Regions from separate parts of the Homo sapiens genome. Here all the other regions are linked to region 1. The links come from fine-mapping of genetic effects on gene expression. A gene starts in region 1. Each other region holds a variant in brackets. All regions are shown on one strand. Distances are from middle to middle.

Region 1 (5,346 bases):
AAACATGGCTGCATCCCAGCCCCACCAAACACAGTCTGGACTTGGAGCTGGTTACTTCCCCTCTCTGGCCCTGGTTTCCTAGTCCTTGTTCGTGCCTGGCACATATCAGCAAATGCCAGTTCTTGGCACTGTTGAGTTTGCCTCCAGGATAACCCAGTTTCCCAGACCACCTCTTCCTACCTGGCTGCCCAAAGGCCTGGGGCACACCCACTGCCACCCAGGTCAGAGCCCTGGGAATCTATATTCTTCTCCCCACTGCGTTTAATATATTCATTCATTCAGAAATATTAAATACGATGTTCAGGCCGGTGCTCAGTGTCTGTCCCCTAGGAACTTGGTCTCACAGTCCTTTCAGGGGCCTAGTTCCTAGGCAGCTCTGTTACTCCTGCCCCTCCCAGGCACAAAGCAGGTGCTCCCTAAGCAGGGATTTCTCCTTCGATTCTAACCCCCAGGGAAGACCCCAATCCACCACCCTAATCTCACTTCTAATTTAAAATCCATTCTCAAGAAGGCTTCACCCTGAAATTATTAAAGAGCCTTCTGCCTGGTGCCCCATAGGGATCTCCAAATTACTCACTCACTTTTCAGTTCCACCCACAGCACCCATGGTCCCAGGAAATAAGCCAAGTGAGTGGGGGACTGTCTGCAGCCCCCAGTCTTCAGCTCTTACTAGGAAGATGACAGGAAGAGGGGGAGTTTAAGCAACTGGCACATTACAAAGAAGTCAGTTCGAAGTCAGGGGACCTTCCCATGTCCGATGTAGATGACCGATGTCGCTGTATAGGGCCCAGCCCTGCATAGGCCTTGGGCACCGCGGCCCAGGTCATCCTGCTTTGAGGAAGCCCATTGTGTGTGTTTTAGATTACCTCTGCCTGTCTGATGAAGTGAGTAAAAGGGCTCCGTTTCAGGGCCTAGGATTCCTGAGTGAGCTAATACAGGATGCCTTTGGCTGAAAAAAAAAACTTCAGTCGGCTCTATAAACTACCCCCCTTTTAAGTTTAAAAAAGGGAATGAATGTTACCATTTTTGGACATGAGCGTTCTCCCTCAAGCCCAGCCCTAACCGCACTATCCAAAGGGACGCGCCATCCTGTCCCCCCCCCACCCAAAACCCCATTCCCAGATCAGCCTGGGGGTGGGGAGGGTATGAAACGGGGAGGGACCGGATGGAAGTGGGCAGCCGGGAGGAGGGGGAGGGAAAGGGGTATTCAGGGTACGTGGCCGCCTGGGGGCACAGGCTCACCGCGCAGGCAGGAAGCAGCGGTAGGGTTGAGGCGCCCTCCCCCCACCACCACGAGTGGTTTCTGACCTCTTCCTGCCACTGGCCACTGTGCCCGGGTCCCATCGCCAGCTCCGAGCCCAGCTCCCGTGGCGGGGCGCGCACCCGGCACACCGCGCCTGCCTGGGATGCAGCTCCGTGGCTAAGTAGGGATCCCCAGTGACTGGCCCCAAATATCCCCTAAGACTGACCCTCGTTCTGCAGCCCCTCAACTCGAACCGAGCTGCCCACCTTTCCCGGGGGTCGGAGGGGCAGGACGTAGCGCAAGCCCATGTCGGGGTTACAGCTTCCAACCCACTGAGTTAAGCAATAAAACGGTCTGCTGTCCTGACCCCGCCCCCACAGGGCCCGCGGGGGAGCCCGCGTACGCCCCCCAGTTTTCTCGTCCCCAGCCGCACTCCAGCTGGTCCTTCTCCAGGCAGATCCGGAGGCGGCCGCCGATCTCTCCGGCGCTCTCCCCTCCGCCTAAGGGGCAGCAGGGTCCCGGGAGGCCCGCCGCTCAGGTTGAACCCAGGGCGGCCCAGGAAGCGGCGCTGCCACCGCACGCCATATGGAGAGGTGGCCAGGGGCGGAAGAAAAGGGAAAATCGATCCGGAGCAAGCAGCCCCGAGCCGGGGTCTCAGCCCCAGCCTGAAGACCACCGCCCCCGAGCACAGCCCACGCGGGGATGGTTGCAACAGCCGCAGGGTGGCCTGGACCACGGACCCCCAAGGAGACCTGCCCGCCAGCGGCGCCACCTCCCCGCGCTCCGGCCCGGCGTTCCCGGGCTCCGGGGCAGGGGCGCTCCCGCTTCCGCCAGGCGCCTGTAACCCAACACCCCACCTCGCAACGGCCGCACCGCCCCCGCCCCCTCCCGTGCGCGCCCGGAACCGGTTCAGAGCCCGGAGCCGAGAGCCCGGCAGGCAGAGCGGGTCGGGGCTGGGGGCTGGGGGCTGGGGGCTGCAGCGGGCGGGGGCGGCTGCTAACCTTTCTCTGCTGCTTCTCCCAGGCCGGGTCCAGGAGCAGGTCCCGGTCCCAGTCCTCTTCTGGCTGCATGTAATCGTTGGTTTGCTGAGAATCATAATGGTCCATGATGGTGCGCGCGTGCTAGGGTCTGGATTTCTTCCTCCACCTTCTCTCTGAGCAACGGCTGCTGCCCTGGCGTGGGGAGGGAGTAGGGCTGGGCTGGGCTGGGCTGGCGGGGCCGGGCTCGCTCCCCTGCGCCCGGTTCCGCCGCGGCGCTGCTGGCGAAGGCTGCTACTGGCGGCGACAGCGGCGGCTGGGCTCGCGGACTGCCTGCCTCTGGGCGGGCGCTTGGACCTAATCTCCACGCACACTGAACTAGGCGGACACACTAGCGCTGCGGGAGCCGAGGCGGGCGGGGGCGGGGGGAAGGGGCAGAGCCCTCCCGAGGCTCTCCATTGGCCAGGCCGAGTTGCCCAAACTTCCCCCCATCGCCTCTCATTGGGAATTCCTGGCATCCGTCAGCCGGGCTGCGGCGCATATAGGTGGACTGGGCGGCCCCCTCCCGGCGCGCACACCCCCGCCCACTCCCGCGGTGCCCGTTCCCCCGCGGCTCATGTGACGCCAGCTTAAGCTGAACGGGACCGAAGCCGGGAGACGCCTCCCCGAGCTCGGGGACTGAGTGGCAGCGCGCTTGGGAACCCCAGGAGCCGCCGGGATTGGACCCGTTCCCCGCCACCGTTATTGCGCTCCCACGCGCGCTCCAAACCCCGGGGTGGGAGGGGGCTGGAGAAAGGACGCGAGGAAACCCGAAGAACATTCATTTTCTCTTTCCCAGGGAACCTGGGTCTGGGCAGGTCGGCACCCTAGGAAAGGGGGCGGAGTGGGGCAATGGAAAGGAATTTCTTGGGAATTTCACGACTCCACCGCCGCCCCCCCCGGCCCCGCCCCACCCCACCCCACCCTACAAGGCGCGACCCGGCTGATCCCTGCCCTGCAGGAACCCGGTTTCTCGCCAGCGAACTGCTCTCAGAGGCTACCGAGCGTTCCCGCCTCGCCGCAGGAACTCTTCTAGCTCGCCCTCGGGCTCTGGGGACCGCTCCACAGCGGGGCCTCCCGGAATTCCCTGCCGGTCTCCGCGGGCACACTTGGCTGGCTGCTGCGACCAAAACTACCTTCGCGTGGCAGGGTCCTCCCTCCTCCTCACAGACACCCCGACATCACCCTCAAAACTGGAAGGGACAACCCCGAGTGATCTAGGTAAATCTACTCCGTACCCCCCTCCCACATACACACGCCTGACAGATGGGGAAACTGAGGCTCAAAGAGCCGAGCGCGGAAAGAGCTTCTGGACTTCACAGGCCAATCCGGTAACCTTATGCCTGACAAACAAAACCTTATTGTCATTGGAGGAGGATGGAGGGCGGGAGTGACTAAATAGCTCTAACTTCTGCTTGCCACCTGCCAGGACTCCTTTCCCTGGGCTTAGTAAGAGGAGAGTCTAAACGCGCTAATGCCCGGGAAGGAGCAGGCCTCGCGTTCTGGCAGGCTCCTCTATGGGATCCCGGTTCCGAAGAACAGTAGCAAATAAACCTCTCCTAGGTTATGCACTGTCTTGTGAACAACAGATGTGCCAGTCTTCCACCCCAGCACCCAGCACATAGTAGAGCTTAATTTATGGATTTGAGGCTGGCCACGGTGGCGGTGGCTCACACCTGTAATCCCAGCACTTTGAGAGGCTGAGGCGGGCAGATCGCTTGAGCCCAGGAGTTGGAGACCAGCCTGGCCAACGTGGCAAAACCCCGTCCTTACTAAAAATACAAAAATCAGCCGGGCATGGTGGTACACGCCTGTAGTCCCAGCTACTTGGGAAGCTGAGGCGGGAGACTCCCTTGAGCCTGGGAGGTCGAGGTTGCAGTGAGGTGCATTTTCACCATTGCACTCCGGCCTGGGTGACAAAACAAGACTGTCTCAAAATATATACATACATATATGCATTTGGCCCTTTATATCCACAGGCTTCAGAACCCGCAGATACCCAGGCTGACTGTGAGGGACTTGAGCATCCTCAGATTTTGGTATCCATGGGGATGCTGAAACCAATACCCTGCCAATACTAAGGGAGGACTGTATTTGTAGGATGAATGGCTGCATCAACTGCAAAAATTTAAATTTAAATTTAAATTTAAAATGCAAATATGTCAATTCAGAAGTGAGTGAAGGAGTTAGAAGAAGAAGTTCACTGACAGGAAGGGCCCTGAATTATGGGCTGGATTTTGTCCTCTACCTTCTCTCCAGGCGATGGTGGATACCTGAAAGCCACCCATGGAAAAGGTGAAGAAAGTGCCCCCTGGTTCTCAGAAGAGCCACTGCTGCTGTTGTGAGCAGATATCGGATGGTGTCTCTGGCTGCATCATTCGTCAACCACACATATTCATATGAGTGTTACCCTCCAGCACTGTGCCTTCCAAAAGCCCCTGGCTGAGGAAGCACTGCTTCTGAGCCACAGAGACAGCTGATTTATGGACCATTTTATCACCGCTTCTAAACTGTGGCTCTAAACCTAACACAGAGGGTAATGGTAGTGCTGTATCCATTCATTCACCCAATAAATATTTGCTGAGCACCATCTGCATATCAGGGAATGTACTAGATGTATACAGAGATGAAAAAGCCATAGTCCCTGTCGCACACAGCCCAGCAGACAGACACAGAAACAAAAATATGATGTCATGAGTTAGACGCAAGGAGAGAGATCTGACAAGTGTACTGTTGGAACAGATGAGGGGCACTGAACCCCGTGGGAAAGGAGGCTCCAGGCTTAACTTTTTGGAGGAGGTGAAACTTAAGTGAACGTTAAAGAATGAGAGTCAGCCAGATAAAGAGTGTGGGAAGTTACTCCAGAAGGAAGGACCAGCACAAGCTAATGCACAAGGACAGGAAACTGCATGGTATACAAAGGAATGTCTAGCATCTCAACGTGGCTGGACTAGAAATCCAAGGCCGGGAGGGGCAAGAGACGGGGCTAGAGAGGTGCAAAGCAGCCAGACCATGAAGGCCTCATGTGCCAGGTGGAGTGTGGATCTAAGGGGAGCAAGGCTGGCTGGAAGCTTTGACACCAGTTGC
Region 2 (5,000 bases), 51 kb before region 1:
AATGTCTGGGCAGAGACAAGAAGGGCAAGTGGTCAGGGGGCTGGTGTTGTCACCCTCATTGGACAAGCCATTTAATGGTGCCAGGGGGTGGGAGGTGGACACCTACTCAGCAGAGCCTCTCAACACAGTTGCCCCACCATGGTCTCATTCACTGCATCAACCAAGCACTGAGCTACCCACAGGGCAGCAGCTGAGGGACCCTACACAGAGCCTGCTACATGGGTGGGAGCAAGCAGGATACATGAAGCAGCAAATTCCCTTAACATCCGCCTCCCAGCCCTCTCTCAAAGACTCATGCCCACCCACATTTGAAAATGCCACAATTCCATTCTTACAAGTTACCTCTTAAGTTATAAGACTTAGTTTCAATCTTCACAGTTTTAAGACAGAGTAACCCCGAAGGAACATATTAAGCCCTGTTGATACCTTAGGGTAAATTAGTATATTAAATCCTTTCTCACTTGGCAGCCAGCTAAGAGAAAGGAGTAGTAAGTTTTGCTGAGAACAGAATTCAGATGCAGGGTGTCAGGACAAGGGAGAAGAGTAAGCACCCCAATGTGTATCTGTGTGTGCTTTGGGTGGGGATAGGGGCACCCTAAGCTGCAAAAGCATGAAGAGTTCCAGAAAGGGAATGTAAGGAGGTCAAATCAAAGACCATCAGCTTCATAGTTACTTCTCTATTAAGCAGATTATGATCAGGTGAGGCAGCAACTAAGCCATCCTGTGCCAACAGCACCAGCTAGTGGCTCAAACAGGAAGAGGGTGTCTCAACAAACATGAGAAACAAAAGCATGCATCGCAGTTTTACATGTCCATCTAAAACAGGTGTCTCTCTCCAGCTGTCTCCACTCTGTGGCAACCAGAGAGAAGAGCTCCCTTGCTTTAGATCTAAACCATTCATTGGCAACTCCAGACTTCTCTGCACCAAATGGCACTACCAATTACATGGGGCTCACCCAACACCAGAGCCATTCAGCTCTCTTCCCACCTGCCCTGCAAAATTCAAAGGATGGGCAGTGTATCATTCATGTGACAGTAGGAGCCACACTAGAAATACTCTTCCTCATGGGAAAGGTCACAGCTTCATGCTCCCCAATCCCTTCCTCCTGCCCTGGGGAACTCTAAAGGTGAAGTGGCAATAAGTGGGTAGGAAGAGGGAAGAACATCACACCAGCGAGTATCAGGGGAAAAGAAATAGCTGCTTAGATTTAGGAGCAAAAGTTGAAGAGCCTATGAACAAGAAAGGGAACAGGGGGACAGAAGCTATCCCTCCACACAGGCGGGGAGAAAGGGACAGCATTATGATACCCTGTGACTTTGGGCTTAATTTTTCAATCATGTCTCACTAGTAACTTACCAATATGGAATACCTCTCTCTCCCTGCAAACATATCTCCACTCTGCAGGCCAGCCTACTCCCATGATGAAGAGAAACGGCGTATTGTGCTATCCCAGAGCTCTGGGAAGACTGGCACACAGATCAGGGTAGATAGGGGACATACACTGATTTCCAATGTCCTCTCTATCTTGCTTAACTAACTCACTCATCTTTCAAGACTGGGTAGAGATATCACCTCCTCCAGGAAGCCTTCCTGATAGCCACCTGCTCTGTCTGGGCTGGACACACACCCATAGCACCCTGCATTCACCCATTATGCCTAGCCACTTGTCAGCTCCACACCCCCAGCCTGGGAGCTCTTGGAGGTAGAAACTCAATGTTCACCTTTATATCCCAGAGACCCAGGGCACAGAGTCAGGGACACAGCAGTGAACTAAACAGCAAAAGTCCCTGCCTCTGTGCAGCAGACATTCTAGTGGACGTAAGAATTGGGCAGCCAGGTGAAGGAACAAGTGGGGAACTGGATGCAAAGCTGAGAGGGTCCTGGGAGATCCAACTGCACCTTGTGGGTGAGGCTGAATGCTCTCAGGGCAGGGGGTGATGGGACAAACAGTGCTCTTAGGGACCCCCTGGACACAGAAGACAGCTCGGAGGAAAGAGGACGCAGCAGGACAGGGAAGCGTATGTACCAAGCATCCTTCCTCCGCTGCTGGCACTGCAGGAGATGAGAGGGCCTTTAGCCTTTATCCTTATTTTAACTTCTTTTTATTGGTAGAAAAATATTAAAGGATTTTTAACTCTTTAAAACAAATATAATTTACTTTGGTTTTGCACATTCTCTCCCAGCTGACACTGGTCTGCCCAGTGTCTTCAAGCTGTGCGTTCACACTTGAGTGTGCGTTGACACTGGGGTGGGTGGTCTTTTCTCATTTATCACCATCTTGGCCATCCCCAGCACCCACTCCCAGTCCCCCAGCACTGAACCTTCAGCCTAAGGTTTTCTATTTCCTTGAGGGGAACTGTGTCAGCCCCAGCAACTCGAAGGGATGCTTTCAGGTCCAATGTGGCCTGAAACATCCAGGGTCCTAGCAGGCACTGCCCTGAGCCCACCCGCCCAGCTGGGGGCTATAAATTCTCACTGTTTACTACCCAGTCGTGGAGGGGGTTGGGATGAGATAAAGGAGGAAGAGGCTGCTGTCGTAAAAAGACACTGCTTTTGAAAGAGGAAAAGTGCTGTTGAAAGCAGCCAGCCCCCTTTCCTGGAAAAGCCAGGCTCAGCCCTGGGAAACAAAACACA[C/A]CTATGTTTGCTCAGGTCTCCTGGACAAAGCCCTGGAACATGGCTTTACTAAAACCCCCAATCCTCAGAGGCCCCATAGATTACTGCCTTGAAGGGGGCTCTGGGCACCTCTCAAACTGGAAAGTTTCCCCAACAAGCAGCAGCCACCGCAAAGTTTAGGCTAGAGGAGGAAATGGTGGCTGTGACCCGGTGATCAACAACATGCACTTCGGGACGCATCAGAGCTGGATTCAGTTCTCAGATCCACTATTTACTGGCTGTGTGACCTTCAGATTAACCTTCCTAAACTTCAGTTCCCTTTGCAGTAAAACAGGGATAGTAACAGCGCTCCATAAAAGTTAAAAAGATTAACTCAAAAACATCTGTAAAAAACTTGCCATTTAGTAAGTGCTCAGTGAACAGTGGGGAGGAGGAAGATGACAGGACTAGCTCCCCCAAAATGATCCCGGGACCAGGTCTCAGAGGACTTGCTCTTGCTCCTCTGCACTCCCACCCCACATCCTCTCCCTGCCCCCAGCCACCAAACTCTCCTGTCGTAGGTCCCACCCCACCACGCGCTGTACTGTTTCCAAGATGACAACATGCGAGCTCTTTTTTGCACCGGTGCTGGTGTGTTCGTGGGAGAGGGCTGGAACTGTGGTGAGTTCCTGGGAGAGGGGTGGAACTGTGGTGAGTTCCTGGGAGAGGGGTGGAACTGTGGCACATTCGTGGGAGAGGGCTGGAACTGTGGCGGGTTCGTGGGAGAGGGCTGGAACTGTGGCGGGTTCGTGGGAGAGGGCTGGAACTGTGGTGCGTTCGTGGGAGAGGGCTGGAACAGTGGCGTGGGTGCAGAAAACCAGGGATTTTGACAGTGGCCTTGTGCACCTCCGCAGAGGAGGTCTGACAGCTGAACGCACACCATACAACTATATCCTCCCCTCCAGCCTGGGGCAGCCTTGGTCTTGAGGCTCAAGCTCCAGCATGAGGGGGTGGCACCTGCTCCTTAGCAGTGCTCCAGGGGTCCAGCAAGGAGAGGAAGGTCAAAGCCACAGGAGAGGCCCATGCTAGAGACCCACGGCCCCAAGACCTCCAGCCTGGACGCCCAGCGTGGTGGGGAGTGCTACCCCGGCAGGTTTGTGGCCCAGCCGCATTCAAACAAAGGGTACAGGGCCATGTTACTGCTCAGCCCGATGAAGCCCTGCCCTATCTGGCCTCCCCTCACCCCAAGAGCCATCTTCAAGTCACCTCCTTGGGCCATACTCAGGCTCACAGCCTGACAAAGGAGATCCGGGATGGCAGGTCTTCAGTGGATACACTCCGTTCCAGAAATGGCTTCAGGGATGCCGAGAGGTCCCAGGAAAAGTCCTTGGGACCAAGGACCACACTGGGATGTTCCCGCAGAGCAGCGGCAACGGCCTGTTCCCCTCTCAGCAGCCCTGTCTGCACTCCACCTGCCCCGGCCCTGCAGAGTCTCTGAGGACCCGGGACAGAGGGAGGGGCCGCAAAACAGCCTGGACCCCTGCTCAGCCTCTCAATGACCTCGAAGCCACTGCCCATGTCTAATCCAGTTTGAAGGTGGTTTGAGGAGGTGGAGAGTGCAACTGTCCAGCCCTGTAGTTCAGGGTTGCAAAGAGGGACCTGGCCAGGCGCCAACAGAGGGGCCCCAGCCCAGGCTAGGAGCCATGGAGCTGGCCATGGAGACAGAATCACATTGTCCACCTTCTGTACAGGTCTCATAGCCTTGCTCTCACAGACTCCGCTAACCTCTTTTCGTCACATCTTTCACAATTATCATGTGATATACTTCCTTTAAAATGTGTTGGAAAGGAATATGGCTTTTGAGAACGTGCCTTCCCTGCCCCCAAGCTCAGACAGACACACTGCAATGTTTCTTTAGCCACAACAGGCCTCTTTGAGCCTCAGTTTTCAAGTCTGTAAAATGGGGGACAATAGCATCTCCCAGGCATGACTGACAGGAAGTACCCTTATTCAGTAAATAATTTTAGCATAGTAATGTTGTTAATTTATGTGAATAATGACAATATAGTATCAATGTGTCTGAAATATAGTAAGTGTGCAGAAAGTGGTAGTTCCTACCGTCATCATCACTGCCTGAATTTTAGATTCTAAAAGGATGTCTGAATAATCACACTCTGCAAGGAGCTGGGGTACAGAAGATTACCCCAGAAGCATGAGTTAGGGGATGAGCTTTTACAATCAAGCATCCTTCATACCCTTGGTCATGGGGAGAGGGAGAGGTAAATCACAAGACCCTAAAGCAGGAGGGCCATGGGATTCACTCGGATCACTCTGCAGAAAAGTATCCATGGGAATGCAAGGATTTAGTCACTCTAAAGAAGACTGCAAATCCAGGCCTATCAGCTTC
Region 3 (5,000 bases), 58 kb before region 1:
CTTCACAAATTCTCTACACTTCCCTGCCCCAGGGGCATCCGAGCCTGCACTAACCACCTGGGTGACTTTCTTTGGCTTCCCACGCCTGCTTAGTTATAACTTTTTCTGCCAAGTCTTGAATTGCTCCCTAATAAAGCAAACTGTTCTTTTCTTATTATAAGGCAGAGAACATCTTCCTCATCACAAAGCAGATTATACTGCTATATGTAAATCCTTTTAACATGTATTGAGCACCTACTGTGTGCATCATGCTGCTAGGAACTGGGGCCACAGGATGTAGAAACCAAGGTTTCTGCCTTTGAGAAGCTCACAGCTGGTGGGGGAGATGCTGGAATCCATAAGGCACCTTGCGTGACCACCTTGGGCACTGGCCTGAATTCCAGATAAGGCAGAGGTGAGCAAACTTTTTCTGTAGAGGGCCTGATAAGAAATGTTTCTGGCTCTATGATCCATATAAGCTCTGTAGCAACTACTCAACTCTGTCATTGCAGCACAAAGCCACTGATGATACATTAACACCGGTGTGCTGTGTTCCAATATTTCCAAAAATCCAAATCAGCCGGACTCGACCCCATGCACTGCAGTTTGCTGAGCCTGTGTTAAAGTTCTCCATTTGATAAATATCCCTCCATTTCTAGAAGAGAGGGGACTGTAAGCTTCAACCAGAGAAGAGATCTGCTCCTATGGACTTCCCAGGAGCAAGACCCCTGCCCCCTCCAAGGGAAGGCCACTCTCAGGGCATTCCTCTGGTGTCACGAAGACCTGCGTTTGAGTTCTGGCTTTGCCACTTACTGATGGCGGAACCTTGAGGAAGTCACGTAATCTCTTTAAGCATCTGTTTTCTTATGGCAAAATCAGGATAATTAATTCTTAGAGCTACCTCATAGGGTTGTTGTGAGGATTAAGTATATGCCACAGAGTGAGCAATCCATTCTCACAGCCACGATGTGTCTTGAATGAGTGAGATTCGTTCATCTTTAGGTCTCTGACATCACGCAGCAGGTGCCCCATAAATACTTGCTAAATCCATGGTCACAGGACTGAAGGGGCCTGGATAGAACATTTTCTGCCCACTCTAAACAACCCACTCTCAATTTTTCAGAGCCACCACCATGCACACAAGAAATTACACTACCTTCTTTTAATCATTAAGGAAATGCTAATAGCTTTTTTGGTAAGTGTTTCTAAGTAAAAGTTAAAGAGTTAGGAAGCTACACTGCAGGGAAATGCTATTAAAAATGTTCCTAGAGGCTTCGGGACTTCAGTCTTCCCAGGGCCCCGGGGAGTCTCGGGGCAGCCTCCAGCCTCCACCAGCCTGTGTCTGCACACCCTTTCCAGCCCATACACAAATCCTCTGCTCCAGGCAACACCGTGCAGTCAGGCCTCTGGATGGGGGAGGTGGCATGCCACACACACAGGACTCCACAGAGCAAGGACGTGGCTAAGCAGGTGCAGGCATGGGAACAGGGGTCTAAGTCCTTGGTTTTGGGCAGGGCTGAGACTAGAAGAAAAGCGCTGTTGCAATACAAAGCCTCCACAGGCGACCAGATGGAGGTGCTGGGGACCCACTGCCCAATGCCCCCAAGTGATGCATGGGCCCAGGAGGCAGCACAAAAAAGGCCAAGAGAACCAGGGGGACAAAGAAAATCAGGCTCCTTGGGGCCACCAGAGGTAGGCCTTACCTTCGGCTCCGATGGACACCAGTTTGACGCCTTTGCTGGCTATGAAATCCAGGGCCTTGTTGACGTTGGAGATCTTGTGCACTCTCATCTTGCCTCGCTCTGGCTTGGCCAAGCGTTCACCTGTTTGGATCAAGAGGGAGGAAGAGGAAGGTGAGACGCTATGAGCCAGGGGCCAGAGCTACTACCACTACACCCTCATCCAAAGCACAGCTTAGCTAGGCAGAAGCATGTGCATGTGTGCACGTGTGTGTGTGCTCACACGCTGCTCAGGGGCTGGAGAATGTCACCCTGGCAGGGAATGAGAGGGAGAATCTACCCTGCCTCTTCTTTCTTCTGCTTCTCAGGTCGAAATCTGCTTGCATCCACTCAACATTTATTTATCGAGCCCCTACCGCATGCCAGGGATTTGGCTGGGTGCTAGGAATAGGGGGGTGAACAAAACAGTTTCTTGCCTTTATGTAATTACAGTCCAGTAGGAGAGACAGACCTTAAATAGAGAAACACAAATAAATATATACAATGAACAAATACAAAGAAAGATCCATGCTCTTCAAAAGAGGAGGAGGAAGAGGAAGGAGGAACTGAGGAGTGGTCAGGAAAGGTCTGAGTCTTTGCAGCCAGGCAAACAAAGCAAGGAATGATGATCAAGGCAGAAGGAACAGTACATGCAAAGGCCCTGAACTCCTTCTAGCCTTCCCTTTGCCCTGGGAGGAGGGTATAGGTCACTCAAGTATTATGGACTTCCCTGGTGTTTAAATGGAGTTGCCTATAGCAGCCCATCCCCA[T/A]CTGAGAACCACAGTTCTTGTCCTATTATGCTGCCTCCTGTGGGCACCCAGGGCTCAGCTCCAGGTCAACCCTCCACCCCCACCTCCAGATTCCACACAGTAGCTTCTGCTGCTCAGGTTTCAAGGTCAGAACCTTTGAGAAAATAAAGGTAGAGGAGCTGGCTCTCCAAATACCCCATTAACAGCACTTTTATTCCAGAACAAAGAGCATCCAGGGGCCTCCTGAAATGATCTGAGAATTTTCTAAGTGCAGCATAGAGCCATACCTAGGGAAGGGGTATATAGCTTTCAGGGTCTCTAAGGGGCCAAGGACCCCAAAAGGCTGAGAACCACCATCGCAGAGCCTGGAATTCAGGCCCCTTGTGCCTGCCCTGATATCCCGACCACACCCACTGTCTCCCCAGCAGGTCGACAATCTGGCTGCGAGGACTCCAGGGACCAGCCACGGGGATTCTGGGCCAGGCCCACCCTGTCAGAGCAGCACCTCTCCAGGTGGCCTCCCAGCAGCCTGCTAGCTTCTGGAAGACGGCAGACTTCCTGCCACAGATGGGATCTGGCTGTCAGCTCCCAGGGAAGCACAGCTGTTTTTTAAATTAAATCAAGACTTTCCACTTGGGGCCCTCCCAAGGCTCTGGCTGCAACCCAGCAAGGTACCCCAGTATTTCCTGTCCGGGGGGAGATGGCACAGAGGCTCCCTCCCCACAGGATGGATGCAGGCAGCACCACGTCCCCTCCCTGGAAGGCTGCTCCTGTTACAGCCCCAGCCCTTGGGGCCTGTCCAGCTAAGCGGAGTGCCCCAGCCATTCAGCAGCTGTGCACACTGGCTGGAAGGGGGCTTCTGCAAAGGACAGTGGAGGAGGCAAGGGTTAAACACGGGAGAATGGAAAAAGCTTCCCAGGCCTGGGCCAGTGGTTCTCAAACGTCAGTCAGCACAAAATCACCTGGAGAACTGGCTAATCTGTGGCTGTCCAGCCCCTTTCCCCCTCTCACTAAGTTTGTGATTAGGAGGACTGGGTTAAGGTTTGGAAATCTGCATTTTGACAGGCAATCCTGCCGATTCTGGTGTGGGTAGTCCAAGGACCACACTTTGAGAACCTCTGTAGGCAGCATACCCCTCCTTCTCCTCATCCTGGGGCACCCTACCCATCTCCAACGATGATCAGGAGAAAAAGGTATCCCAGCATTTCCTGTCCAGGGGAGAACAGATCATTTCACAGAACAGATCTTTCCCAACCCTGGCAAAGAGACACATGCTTCACAGAAATGCACAGGTCCCCTGGGCACACGTCAGACCTATGCAGCAGGAACACACTGGGTATCATGAGGACAAGCCCGGCTCTGGGCACTCAGTCATTCTAATGTTCCCGGAGCACCGCCTACATGTCTGGTGCTGTTCTAAGCACCTGAGACACAGAGAGAAGATGACCTGCCCCAAGGAGCTCAGTGTGGAGCAGAGAAGAAAACAAGCGAACCGAAAATGACTACACTTTGTGATAAAAGACACAGCAGAGGAATTAATGGGGTATTATAGGTGCTGGGGAGCTGGGCAGGTAGGGGGGTGGTGCGGGCAGGGCACAGTCCACTCAGATTAGGGGAGAGAGGAAGGGTGAAGCCTTCTTGAAGGACACCCTCAAGCTGCATTTTGAAGAATGATAAATTGTAAGGCCAGATTTGTTTAAAACTGGGGAAGGGTAGTGGAGGAGGTAGGAAGCAGGGACATTCTAAAAGGCAGTTAGAGGCAAGGCACGGTGGCTCACACCTGCAATCCCAGCGCTTTGGGAGGCTGAGGTGGGAGGATCACCTGAGGTCAGGAGTTCAATACCAGCCTGGCCAACATGGTGGAACCCTATCTCAAAGAAAAAAGAAAATAAATAAATAAATAACGGCAGAGGAAAACAGCACGGTGGCTCCTCAAAAAATTAAACAGAGAATTCCCATGTGACCTAGCAGTTCCACTTTGGGGAATATACAAAAAAAGAACTGAAAGAGGGATTTTAAAAATATTTTGTACAACCATGTCCTAGCATTATTCACAATACCCAAAAGGTAGAAACAACCCAAGTGACCACCGACAGGTGAATGAACAAAATGTGGGGAGCCATTTTATAGCTGTAGGTCATACATACAATGGAATACGATTCAGCCATAAAAAGGAAAGGGATGGCGGCACATGCTCCAACATGGATGAACCGTGAAGACACAGTAAGTGAAATAAACCAGTGTCACAAAAGGAGAAATACTGTATGATTCCACTCGTACAAGGTATACCTAGAGTAGTCAAATCAGAGACAAAAAGTAGAATGGTGGTTGCCAGGGGAGGGCCGGGGGGAGCGGCGAGCTAGTGTTGAACAGCTGTAGGGTGTCAGTTTGAGACGATGAAGAGCCCTGAAGGTGGACGGTGGCGATGGCTGCACAACAGTCAGTGCATGCCCTTAATACCGCTGAACTGCACCCTTTAAAATGGCTAAAATGATACATTTTCTGTTATATATTATTTTACCACACACACAGGTTTTATCTGAAAGTAGAAAAA

What was found. PIP is the estimated chance that this variant, and not a neighbour inherited with it, causes the effect.
Region 2: its variant is the best candidate, but not a certain one, in a credible set for the expression of ACTN1 in monocytes (TOPMed, PIP 0.76).
Region 3: its variant is the best candidate, but not a certain one, in a credible set for the expression of ACTN1 in whole blood (TOPMed, PIP 0.53).

What each region holds. Positions count from the first base shown.
Region 1 is chr14:68,976,708-68,982,053 of GRCh38, forward strand. It overlaps ACTN1 (actinin alpha 1), which reads right to left and starts at 2,595. Exons shown (of 22, transcript NM_001130004.2): 1 at 2,245-2,595. The coding sequence starts at 2,349. ACTN1-DT (ACTN1 divergent transcript) reads left to right here and starts at 2,975. Exons shown (of 4, transcript NR_073422.1): 1 at 2,975-3,077; 2 at 3,221-3,480. RefSeq lists enhancers at 1,463-2,462, 2,463-3,461 and a silencer at 2,603-2,652.
Region 2 is chr14:68,925,668-68,930,667 of GRCh38, forward strand. It overlaps ACTN1 (actinin alpha 1), which reads right to left. Exons shown (of 22, transcript NM_001130004.2): 2 at 1-5. Among named protein-coding and RNA genes, the nearest start is that of ACTN1, 51 kb to the right of the region's middle. The variant C/A (reference allele first, on the strand shown) is at 2,636.
Region 3 is chr14:68,919,324-68,924,323 of GRCh38, forward strand. ACTN1 (actinin alpha 1) reads right to left here. Exons shown (of 22, transcript NM_001130004.2): 3 at 1,683-1,802. Among named protein-coding and RNA genes, the nearest start is that of ACTN1, 57 kb to the right of the region's middle. RefSeq lists enhancers at 1,550-2,124, 4,657-5,000. The variant T/A (reference allele first, on the strand shown) is at 2,468.